2 separate regions of the Homo sapiens genome follow, and region 2 is linked to region 1. The links come from fine-mapping of genetic effects on gene expression. A gene starts in region 1. The other region holds a variant in brackets. All regions are shown on one strand. Distances are between the middles of the regions. Region 1 holds the start of GLRX3 (glutaredoxin 3). Region 2 overlaps LOC124902561.

The links. PIP is the estimated chance that this variant, and not a neighbour inherited with it, causes the effect. A credible set is the group of variants that fine-mapping cannot tell apart.
Region 2: its variant is the best candidate, but not a certain one, in a credible set for the expression of GLRX3 in putamen (GTEx, PIP 0.61).

Annotation. Positions count from the first base shown.
Region 1 is chr10:130,134,134-130,139,499 of GRCh38, forward strand. It overlaps GLRX3 (glutaredoxin 3), which reads left to right and starts at 2,258. Exons shown (of 11, transcript NM_006541.5): 1 at 2,258-2,379. The coding sequence starts at 2,288. It overlaps LOC105378561 (a long non-coding RNA gene), which reads right to left and starts at 2,238. Exons shown (of 6, transcript XR_001747659.2): 1 at 1-2,238. RefSeq lists a silencer at 2,240-2,839 and enhancers at 3,040-3,089, 3,368-4,003, 4,004-4,638.
Region 2 is chr10:130,181,693-130,187,058 of GRCh38, forward strand. LOC124902561 reads left to right here. Exons shown (of 2, transcript XM_047426136.1): 2 at 2,176-5,366. Among named protein-coding and RNA genes, the nearest start is that of GLRX3, 48 kb to the left of the region's middle. The variant G/A (reference allele first, on the strand shown) is at 2,203.

The DNA of each region.
Region 1 (5,366 bases):
TATTTTTGTAGAGACCGGGTCTTCCTATGTTGCCCGGCTGGTCTCCAACTCCTCGGCTCAAGTGATCCTCCTGTCTGGGGTTTCCAAATTGTTGGGATTACAGGTGTGAGTCAGAGCACCCAGCCAAGTTCTATACAATTTTATCATGTTTAGTTTGTGTTCTCACCACCACAGGCAAGATACAAAATGGTTCCTCATCACTCTCCTGTTGCATTTTAAATAACACAATTTACCGTGTTCAATACCATGTATTTCTCCAGGTGAGGTATACATGTGACAGGCTCCAAAAGGCTTTTAAACACCACAGTAGTGCTGCCCAAGAAAATTCAAGGGCCACGAATGAAAGTTGCCTATGAAATTAGACATTTCTCAGGAGCCAAAGGTAAAAGAGACCAATTTAAATAATATATTTCAGAAAACCGAATATATCCAAATATCCTCATTTCAACATGTAATCAATATAAAAAGTATGAATGATATGCTACTTTTCTCGTACGAAGTCTTTGCAATCCAGTGAGCCCAGTCCTCTGGCAGCTGTTAGCATGGACTGAGTACCTCCTATGTGTCTGACTCTGATCCAGGCACTGAGACACAGATCAGCTCCTGCCCTTTAAGAACACAGGCCAATGGAGGACAAGCACAGTTCTACAACATGAGACAGGCCACGGTAGAAGCAAGCAAAGGAGGCCTGGGAACACCTGGCTAGTAGGGAAGGCTCTGTGGGGGCTTGGCCTCAAAGCCCAGGGACAGCAGGGGGACCAGTCAGAAGGAGCCCCAAGTGTCTGGGTGGGAGCGATGGTGTTCCCTGAGATGGGAACCAAGAGGAGAGGCACTTTGGAGGGAAGGCCCAGTGTGGTTTGGGGATATCCAATAAAAGATGGCCCCTCCTCAAAGTTAGTGGATGCTAGGCTCTGGGATGCAGGGGAGGGTTCTGGGCTTGCTATTGAGGTTTCCCTGGAGGTTGATGTCACTGGGGGCATGGAGATTACTCAGGCCAGAAGGTGTGTGGGAAGCATGGGGTGTGGGGTACAGAGTACACCACATGGAGAGCCAACATCAGGGGGATTCCCAAGGGAGAAAGACAAGCCAGGGATCATCCAAGGAGGCAAGACGGGAGGAGTGCAGGGATCTGTGGACCCACCCAGCCCCTTCTGTTCTGAGGTTACAATGGGTGATGGCTCTGTGGGGCTGCAATGAGTGGCGGCACGCGCGGAGGGCCAGGGGAGGAGGGACATGCTGTGGGCTCCGGGTTCAGGTCCCAGGACTGAATTGGAAGCACCCTGTCTGTGTTGAAGTTCAAGATCTACCACTTCTGTTCCCAGACCTCCCAGTTCTTCCTCACCTTTATGCAATTTCATTTTTGATAATTTCAGCTTCCTAAATGTACACATCTGACTTCACTTTCACTCACATGTCTCACCCCCACCCCTCCACCGGCCCCTTCTATTACAGACCCAGGAGACACAGGAAGTGCAAGGAAGGTCTGGAGCCCCAAAAGCCAGGAGCCTCAGGAGTCAGGTGTCCTGACAGCCAGGAACCCTGACACCCAGGAGCCCTGGCACCCAGGAACCCCAACAGCCAGAAGCCTCTACCACCAGGAGCCCTGACAGCAAGGAACCCCGACACCCAGGAGCCCCTACTACAGCCAGGAAGCCAGGAACCCTAACACCAGGAGCCCTGACACCCAGTCACCCCGACAGCCAGGAAGCCAACAGCAAGAAGCCTCTACCACCAGGAGCCCTGACAGCAAGGAACCCCGACACCCAGGAGCCCCTGCTATAGCCAGGAACCCTAACACCCAGGAGCCCCTACAGTCAGGAACCCCGACACCCAGGGGTCCCGACAGCCAGGAACCCCGACACCCAGGGGTCCCGACAGCCAGGGGCCATTACGGCCAGGAGCCCCGACAGCCAGGGACCTCGACGGCCAGAATCCACTACATCCAGAAGCCCTTATAACCGGGAACCTCCATAGCCAGGAGCCCCTACAGCCAGGAGCCCCTTCAGCCAGGGAGCCCCGAAAGCCAGGAGCCCCGACAGCCAGGAACCATAACAGCCATGAACCCCGGGAGCCAGGAGGCCCGCAGCGGAGTGCCCAGACTTGGCAGGGTCAGAGCCCCCCAGCGGGATCCAGAGCCCGCCGCCGAGGCCCCTTTTGGGATTTCTCAGGCTCGGCAGCCTCAGCGCAGGCAGGGGCGGGGCTTTCCCTCGCGCAGCCGCTCAGCTCCCCGTGGCCCCGCCCACATCCGGCCGCCGGCACTGGATTGCTTCTGTCTGGCGGCGGCAGCATGGCGGCGGGGGCGGCTGAGGCAGCTGTAGCGGCCGTGGAGGAGGTCGGCTCAGCCGGGCAGTTTGAGGAGCTGCTGCGCCTCAAAGCCAAGTAAGCGGGGCGGCGAGCGGTAGGAGTGAGGAGCCGGAGCGGGAGCGGCCGCGAGACCGGGCCGGTGTGGGGCGGCGGGTGGCCCAGCCTGGCTTCTTGGTGCCCGGCTCCCTTCGGCCTCGGGGGACCGGGCCCGGCGCCACCCGTAGACTCCCCCGAGCCTCCGCGTGAGTGGCCCGAGCCGCAGGTTCCCCGCCCCGGAACAGCGAGCAGGGCGCGAGGCTCGCCTGGAAGCCCCGGCCCCAGCCCTGGCTCCGACCCCGACGGCTGTCCAAGCCCGGGGGACGCGACCTTCCCGGCCTCTGGCCTGGGCGGCCCCGCCGCGGGACGGAGGCGGTGGTGACTCAGCCGTGCCGCAGTGGCGGGGCGGGGGACGGGGCGGCGCCGAGACCCCGGCCCTCCGCGCCACGGAGCGGGACCCACGGCTGCGGGCTCCACCTTTCCTGTGCCCGCCGGGAGGGAGCGGCAGGCTCGGCGTCGGCCCATTGCTCTTCAGCCTCCCTTCAGGAACGCCCCTGTCGCAGGAAGAGCGGCGAGGGAAGGCCCCGTTGCATTAGCTAGGCCTGGCTGCCTTTTGAAGTCAGCCTTTAAAGTTTGTTGGACAGCAGGTAGCCTCAGTCTTCAGACTTAACCTGTTGCCGGAGACAGAGATTTCCTGTTCCATGAACTGGTGTAGTGAGAGTCTGTTCAGATTTGGCGCCGGTGTCCAGGTCTTCAATCCCTGGGAAGACTACAAAAGGAGATCCAGAGGAATGCATAGAAAGCGTTTTCTGGGTGGACTAGAAGCTCTGAACTGCAAGCATGCTTACGAGTAAATGCTTACTAGCGTGCGTGCCTGCAGGGAAAGGTCTGCACGTGGACTCTCCGTGATAATACCACCTCACATTGTAGACTACTCCAAGGACTGAGTTGTTCTCTTAGTTGTATTATTAGCGGTTGTTATGGGAACTCTTATGTCGGATTGCCTGGGATCCAGTCCCACCGCAGCCACTCAGTAGCCATGTAACCCCTGGGCACGTTTCATGCCCAAGCCTCAGTTTCCCGACGGTGACATAGATTAGCACCTGTTAGTACCTCAGGGTTGTTGTGAGGGTTAAATGAGATGACGTATGTAAAATACAAATAATACAATGCCTAGTATGCAGGAAGCACTCAGTAGATGTTGGCACTTAGTATTTCAGTAGGAAGTAGAATGGTTCATGGAATTCACAGGCAAAAAGCTTTGTTTTGTTTTGTTTTTGAGACAGGGTCTGGCTCTGTCACCCAGGCTGCAGTGTAGTGGAGCGATCACGGCTCCCTGCAGCCTCCGCCTCCCAGGCTCAAGTGATCGACCCACCTCATCCTCCCGAGTAGCTGGGACCACAGGTGCTCACCACCACGCCCGTCTAATTTTTATTTTTTTTTATAGAGACGAGGTCTCGCCATGTTGCCCAGCCTCGTCTCGACCTTCTGGACTCGAGCGATCTGCCCTCCTCAGCCTCCCAAAGGGTTGGGATTACAGGTGTGAGCTACCACGTCCGGCCAGAAATGCTTATTGATCTAAATTTTGTTTTGTTTGTTTTCGAGACAGGCTGTTGCTCTGTTGCCCAGGCTGAGTGCAGTGGCGTGATCTCGGCTCACTGCAGCCTCTACCTCCTGGGTTCAAGCGATCCTCCCACCTCAGCCTCCTGAGTATCTGGGACTACACGTGCGGTCCACCACGCTGGGCTAATTTGTGTATTTTTCGTAGAGGCAGGGTTTCCTCATGTTGCCCAGGCTGGTCTCTGGAACTCCTGAGCTCAAGTGATTCGCCTGCCTCGGCCTTGTAAAGTATCGGGATTACAGGCTTGAGCCCCCGTGACCTGCCCTGTTGATCTAAATTGAGTGAAATTTTGCCGACTGAATTTGAATTAGAGGCAAGTAGTACTCTGATTTTGCAATGGAGAGTGCAGGTGAGATGGGGTGTTGCCTTTGGAAATGGGGAGGGGTGCGAGTTACTGACTAATGGTTAGAAATGCTTTATGGGGGTGATGAAATTAAAGTGTTATTTAAACAGCTCTTTAGGCATTTCAGGTTTACCTGGGAAATTGTTACGGAAAAAAGCAGGGGTTGGGGAGGGACATGTGACATTTACTCACTGATGGAAGCTGGGCTCTGACTCATCCAGTACAGATCAGCACAATCACAGGAGTCACCAGAAGTGGCCTCTTGAAATGAGCAGGTCTTGTGTGGACCTGCCCTAAGTAAACGTTTTGAATTTACCATCACCTGAAAGGCTGTTTTGTCTGTTTTACATGTTTGTTTTAAATGCTTCATGTTTTAAAAAGTCCTTAAACTATCAAAATGAATAAAAGTGTTTTTTTTTTTTTTTTTTTTTGGGGGGGAGACAGAGTCTCTCTCTGTTGCCCAGGCTGGAGTAGAGTGCAGTGACACAATCTTGGCTCACTGCAACCTCTGCCTCACGGGTTCAAATGATTCTCCTGCCTCAGCCTTCTGAGTAGCTGGGATTACAGGTGCCCGCCACCACGCCTGGCTAATTTTTGCATTTTTAGTAGAGATGGGTTTCACCATGTTGGCCAGGCTGGTCTTGAACTCCTGACCTTAGGTGATGGGCCCGCTTCCCAGCGTGCTGGGATTACAGGCATGAGCCACTGCGCCCGGCCAAAATGGATAAAAGTTTAAATGTAAGTACCATTTGGATGTTGTATCCTTGCCGCTGGCCTGTACTTGAAATGGCCCAGGAAACAATGTGCACTTTCCTTAGTGACTAGTTCAAACGGACACGTGATAAATGATGTGTGGCATCTGGGGAAGGAGCACATTTCTGCAGCTTTTTTGGTGAAGATGGAGACATTTAAGAATATTAGGCCGGGCGCGGTGGCTCACGCCTGTAATCCCAGCACTTTGGGAGGCCGAGGTGGGTGGATCACGAGGTCAGGAGATCGAGACCATCCTGGCTAACACGGTGAAACCCCGTCTTTACTAAAGAAAATACAAAAAATTAGCCA
Region 2 (5,366 bases), 48 kb after region 1:
ACTTCCCCTATTGAATTTTCTAACAAAAAGAGAGTTTGCGTATGGGTTTATAATTGAGCCTGCTCTTGTAGAAATGTTTTATCAGAATTGAAATCCTCTCTGATCCCCAAATTCTAGAGACAAAGTTGTTTTCTGAATTTGAGAAATCTGTTCAGTTCACAAGGAAAGGTGACAATGTGTCATTTGGATGTTGTCCCACACGTGAGGCCTCGTTGGGTGCTTGTGGTGGGAGGGACCCTCCAGGCAGGCTTTGTATGGAGGGTTTTCATGTCTGGACACATTTCTGTTCCGAGAAGCACTGCTGCGTTTTTGGGAGCGTGGACCCTGGCCAGAGCCTGTGGCCAGCTCTGCCTGCCCTCCCTTTCTTGGCCTGCTCTTTTGAGTATGTAGTGGGGCTTTGTGTGGCATCCTGCCAGGTTAAAGCTGCATGGTGCTTAGGATAGAGCTGGTGCTGTGGGGAGGCTCTTGATGATGGGGGCTGCCATCTATTTGCCTGTTAACTCTTAGAAACCAAACCTCAAATGTCAGAATTTCCTTTCTAGAAGAGGCTGGTTGAATAGGAACCAGAAAGGCCCTCATACAGGCAGGGCTGTTCACTCCTCTTGACTTGCGTGTTTGTGCCTTCCTTGTAGGAAGGCTTCTTAGGGAATTGTTATCTGTTTAGGGGAAATAAGCCTGCAGGAATGAACTTTTTTTTAAAATAAAAACTCTTGATCAAAAATGGAAAGAAAAAAACCAGTGAAACAGGCTAGGTAGTTTGTGGAATTCTCCTTTGCAGGTGAGGGGAGAAAGCAGCTATCTCAAGGGCACAGCTACAGATTGGGAGCTGGGGCTTCCATCCAGGGTCTGGGACACCCAAACCTTAGGCTTGCCCCTCCCGGGAGGCCTCCCCCTCAGAGCTATGTGGGATGCAGTTGCCTTTTTACCTGTGATGAGAAACTGGTGAATTGCCAGGATTCTGGCTCTGGCTTCAGTCTGCCCCTTTCCGGGGATTAGAGGGCATTAACCCTACTTCCTACAGCCAAGCAGCTCTTCCTCATGACTCTACTTTCTAACTCCGGGGGTTGACTGATTGATTTGAAGACCGCCTTGTTGATGAATGTGTTGAAACTTGCTATCATAATGTAAATGCTCCTTAATAAAATAACAGGACCTGGTGGGTTCAGTTGCCTTGCCCACGTGTGACTTACATGTTTTTGCCTTTTTTTGTTGAACACTGAGCCTTGCAGAACCATCAGGAAGTCCACCTTGGTCCCACTGGATTGATCATTAAGAAGGAAGGAAAAAAGTTATTTGCCATTTCCGTTCTTTACAAAAATGTCTTAAGTCTGCTGAGGAGTAGACTAAAAAATAGCATGTTTTTATAATTAGAAAGCCTCATTTTAATAACTTAAAAATGTTTAATCTCTGAAACAACTGTAATACATTTTAAGCGCTTGGTAATCATTATCTGCCTTATTGGAAAGAATTATACAAATAAGACCTATCTTGACAGTCAAAAGTTACAAGCTTAAGATTGCAATATGAAACATGATTTCTGGTTTAGTTTTTAAAGTAAAATCAGCTTTCTTTTCCTTTGTTTTTTGAGACAGGGTCTCCTCTGTCACCCAGGCTGGAGTGCAGTGGTGCAGTCATGGCTCACGGCATCCTTGACCTCCCAGGCTCAAGATCCTCCCCCGTCAGCCTCCTCAGTAGCTGAGATGACAGGCATGTGCCACCATGCCCGGCTGTGTTTTGATTTTTTTTTTTTGTAGAGATGAAGTCTCACTATGTTGCCCAGGCTGGTCTCAATCTCCTGGGCTCAAGTGATCCTCCCACCTCAGCCTCCCAAAGTGTTGGGATTACAGGCCCTAGCCACCATGCCTGACCTAAGATCAGTTTTCTTAAATTTGACAGTTGCTACTTTTCAAAATTCAAACCTTTCTAAATAAAAGTAAGTTGATTATTTGCAGATGAATTCTTGTTTTATACACATTTCAGATGTTGAGTTTGAGGACCTAGACCCTTCCCTTTTTGTCTAGTCACATTTCCTCACGGCCGTCCACTGATCGTTGAATCAGCGTAAATATGGACAGTTTCTCTTGAGTCTTTGGGTCTTCATTTCTGAAGGCTCCTGTGTCACGTAAGACTTAAATAAATCTTACGCTTTTCTCTTGTTAATCTCTTTTGTTATAGGAGTGTCGGCTGTGCCCCTTGTGATGG[G/A]TGAGGAAAGGTATCCACCTTTCTGAATCAGACACAAGCTGCAGTAGCTTCCTGATGCCTCATTCACCAGGATGGGTAACTTTAAAGACAAGTTTTATAACTGGCATCCCATCTGGTTTCAGAGTCTTGGGGGCTTTTTTCATACAGCTTTGTCTGATATTTAGAGACATTCAGATTCAGAAGCCATGAGTTCAGTTAGCTCATGGGCCGGGCACGTGCACTGACTCACTGGCTGCAGCAGAACACGTTGAGGGAGTCTTGGTGCACTTAGGTCACTGTAAGGTTCTAGGGCTGGGAGCTGGGATTTGAACCAGGATCTGTCAGCGCAGCCCCAGTGCTGTGCTTGAAGCCTCGTGCCACACTGGCTTTGAGGTAGCACGCTGCAAGTTAGTGAGTGGAGTTGCCCAAGTCTGGGGCTTCTGAAATGACCTGGTATTTTTATGTTCCTGTTAGAAATGGTGTGGCTTTCACAAATTAAGTGCCAGGCTGGGCACAATGGCTCGTGCTTGTAATCCCAGCACTTTGGGAGGCGGAGGCAGGCGGGTTGCTTGAGCTCCGGAGCTTGAGACCAGCCTGAGCAACATGGCGAAACCTCATATCTACAAAAAATAAAAAATTAACTGGTCATGGTGGTGTGCACCTGTAGTCCCAGCTACTTGGGGAGCTGAGATGGGAGGATTGCTTGAGCCCAGGAGGTCAAGGCTGCAGTGATCGTGCCATTGCACCCCAGCTTGGGTGACAAAATAAGAGCCTGTCTCAGAAAAAAAAAAAAAAACAAAAAAACCTAATTGCCAGGACCCGCAAATTCTGACTGAAAAAGACCTTCTTGTTCTCCCCACGGTCATTCATCTAAATGGTTGTCAGTGGTACAGTGTTCATCTTTTCTCAAAAAGTCAAGTTTTATTTGAGGAAGTTACAGATTTCCATATGAACTCCTAGAGAGAGAGCCTGCCCTTGTTCAGGGTTGCCCGGGGGATGCCTGCCATGTGGTAAGGTAAGGGTTTCTCTGCCCCTCATCTCCCAGCCTGCTGTCCCCAGGAGCGAGTTCCTTAACCCCTAGCCGTGTCGTTGAGCCCAAGCTTGTAACCTGGATATGGGAGCTGTCTATTTAGGAAGAAGGCATGTGTGGTAATTTCTAAAAGAATTAAAATAGATTTTTATGCTCTTGTATTATGTTTTGTGCTTAAAAGGAAGAGCCCCGATATAATGGAGAAAAGCCAGAAGGAGCTTGGATGCCCTCAGAGAGCCCTGTCACCTGTCTGTAGGGGCAGAAAGGAGGATGCCTTTCCTCACCCATCACAAGGGGCACAGCCAACACCTAGAATAGATTACCAAGGAAAAGTATAAAATGTATGTAAAGACTTAGGTGACACAGGAGCCTTCAGAAATAAAAACCCAAGAGAAACTGCATGTTCACACTCAGATTCAACGAAGAGTGGGTGGCTGTGCAGAAATGTGATTGGACAGAAGGGAAGGATCTAATCGTAGACTGGATGGGGAAGCCTTGCCCCGTGTGTAGCTTTCTTCCTTCCAGGTACAGGGCAGGGCCCTTCTGGAATGAAGGTCTGGGATCCATTTTCAGATAAAGTAGTGTTGAGGATGTCTTTGTGGCCGGCTCCTGTAGTGGACCTCAGATCCGGGTGCTCGCCAGTTACAGAGTCCAGTTGACAAGAGCAAGGTCTGGTAGAAAGAAAGTGACTATTAACCAGAACTAGTCATGGGGATATGGCTGGATTCCCACCCAAAGTAACTACTTTGAATTCTGGAGAGAAGGCAAGGGTTTAAGAAGTGGGGAGTAGGAGCTTGAGCTGGGAGGCGCGCAGGGATCGTGCTGAGTACAATGTGTGTCTTGTTCCGGCGGCTGTCCTGGGCCTCCGTCCACCTGGAGTGCGGGCTGGTGTCATCTCAACAAGTGGCCAGATTTGACTGCTCACCTTGAGGTAAGCTCTGGGATTTTGCAGCTGGGTTTCCACGCTTGGTCTGTCTCAAGATTAGTCCCTAGAACTTCGAAGTAAGCACGTAATTAGAGACTAGCTCACAGACACATGTGAAGAGAGTATACGGTGAGAAAGGGGAGGGGTATGGAGTCTATTTTAAGATTAAGGGAAAAGGCTTCTGCAGTTTGCTCTAAGGTTGCATCTCAGGACTAAAGAGAAAGGAAAAAAAAGTCTAAAAATGCATTTTGAAGTTAAGCTGCTCAGTTACACTCCTACACAAAGGCCAGGGAAAGTTAGAGTCATATTTCTAGTTTTTTTTTTTTTTTTTTTTGAGACAGAGTTTTGCTCTTGTCCCCCAGGCTGGAGTGCAGTGGCGCGATCTCGGCTCACTGCAACCTCTGCCTCCTGGGTTCAAGCGATTCTCCTGCCTCAGCCTCCACAGTAGCTGGGATTACAGGCGTGTGCCACCATGCCCGGCTAGTTTTTGTATTTTTAGTAGAGACGGGGTTTCGGCATGTTGGCCAGGTGGGTCTCAAACTCCTGACCTCAAGTGATCCGCCTGCCTCAGCCTCCCAAGTGCTGGGATTACAGGCGTGAGCCACAGAGCCTGGCCGTATTTCTAGGTTTTATGGCTGGCCTCGCAGGAGAGGGGTTCTGGTTTCTATGACCTGCACTGGGGAAGAGGCATTCTACTTTCCGTGGCCTACCTTGAGGGGTGGTGGGGTGCGGGCAAGGGAAGGGGCCAGAGGGTCAGAGAGCCCTTGCCTCTGAGGCCCTTCCGGTGTCCTGCAGTTCCTCAGTGTGCCAAAACCACAGGCCTTGGGGTATCATTTTCTGAGCCCCAGCATATCCCTCTATTTTGCCCTTAGGTCTGGAGGAAGGTTCCAGGGCATTTGCCCTTGGTGGGTGCAGGTAGGGAGGATCTGCGGGTCTTCCTCATGCCAGGAGTCTTATCCCAGAATCAAAGGCTCCTGGTGGGTAGGAGCGTGTCCCATGTGCAGCACGCTTGGCTGTCCGAAGTTGCTGATGAGAAGCAGCATAGGATCTGGCAGGGACGGTCCTGAGTGGAGAGGCTGAGATGGGAGGTGGTGGCCCACGGTTAGCGGGCTGGATTTTCTGGGGCAGCCTCCATGCCAGCATTTTGTCTTCATCCCGGAACCCTGTGCACTGAGGTGCAGGAAGCGTGTGTAGTTTCACACACTTAAGTGTAAGAAAGCATGTTCCTGT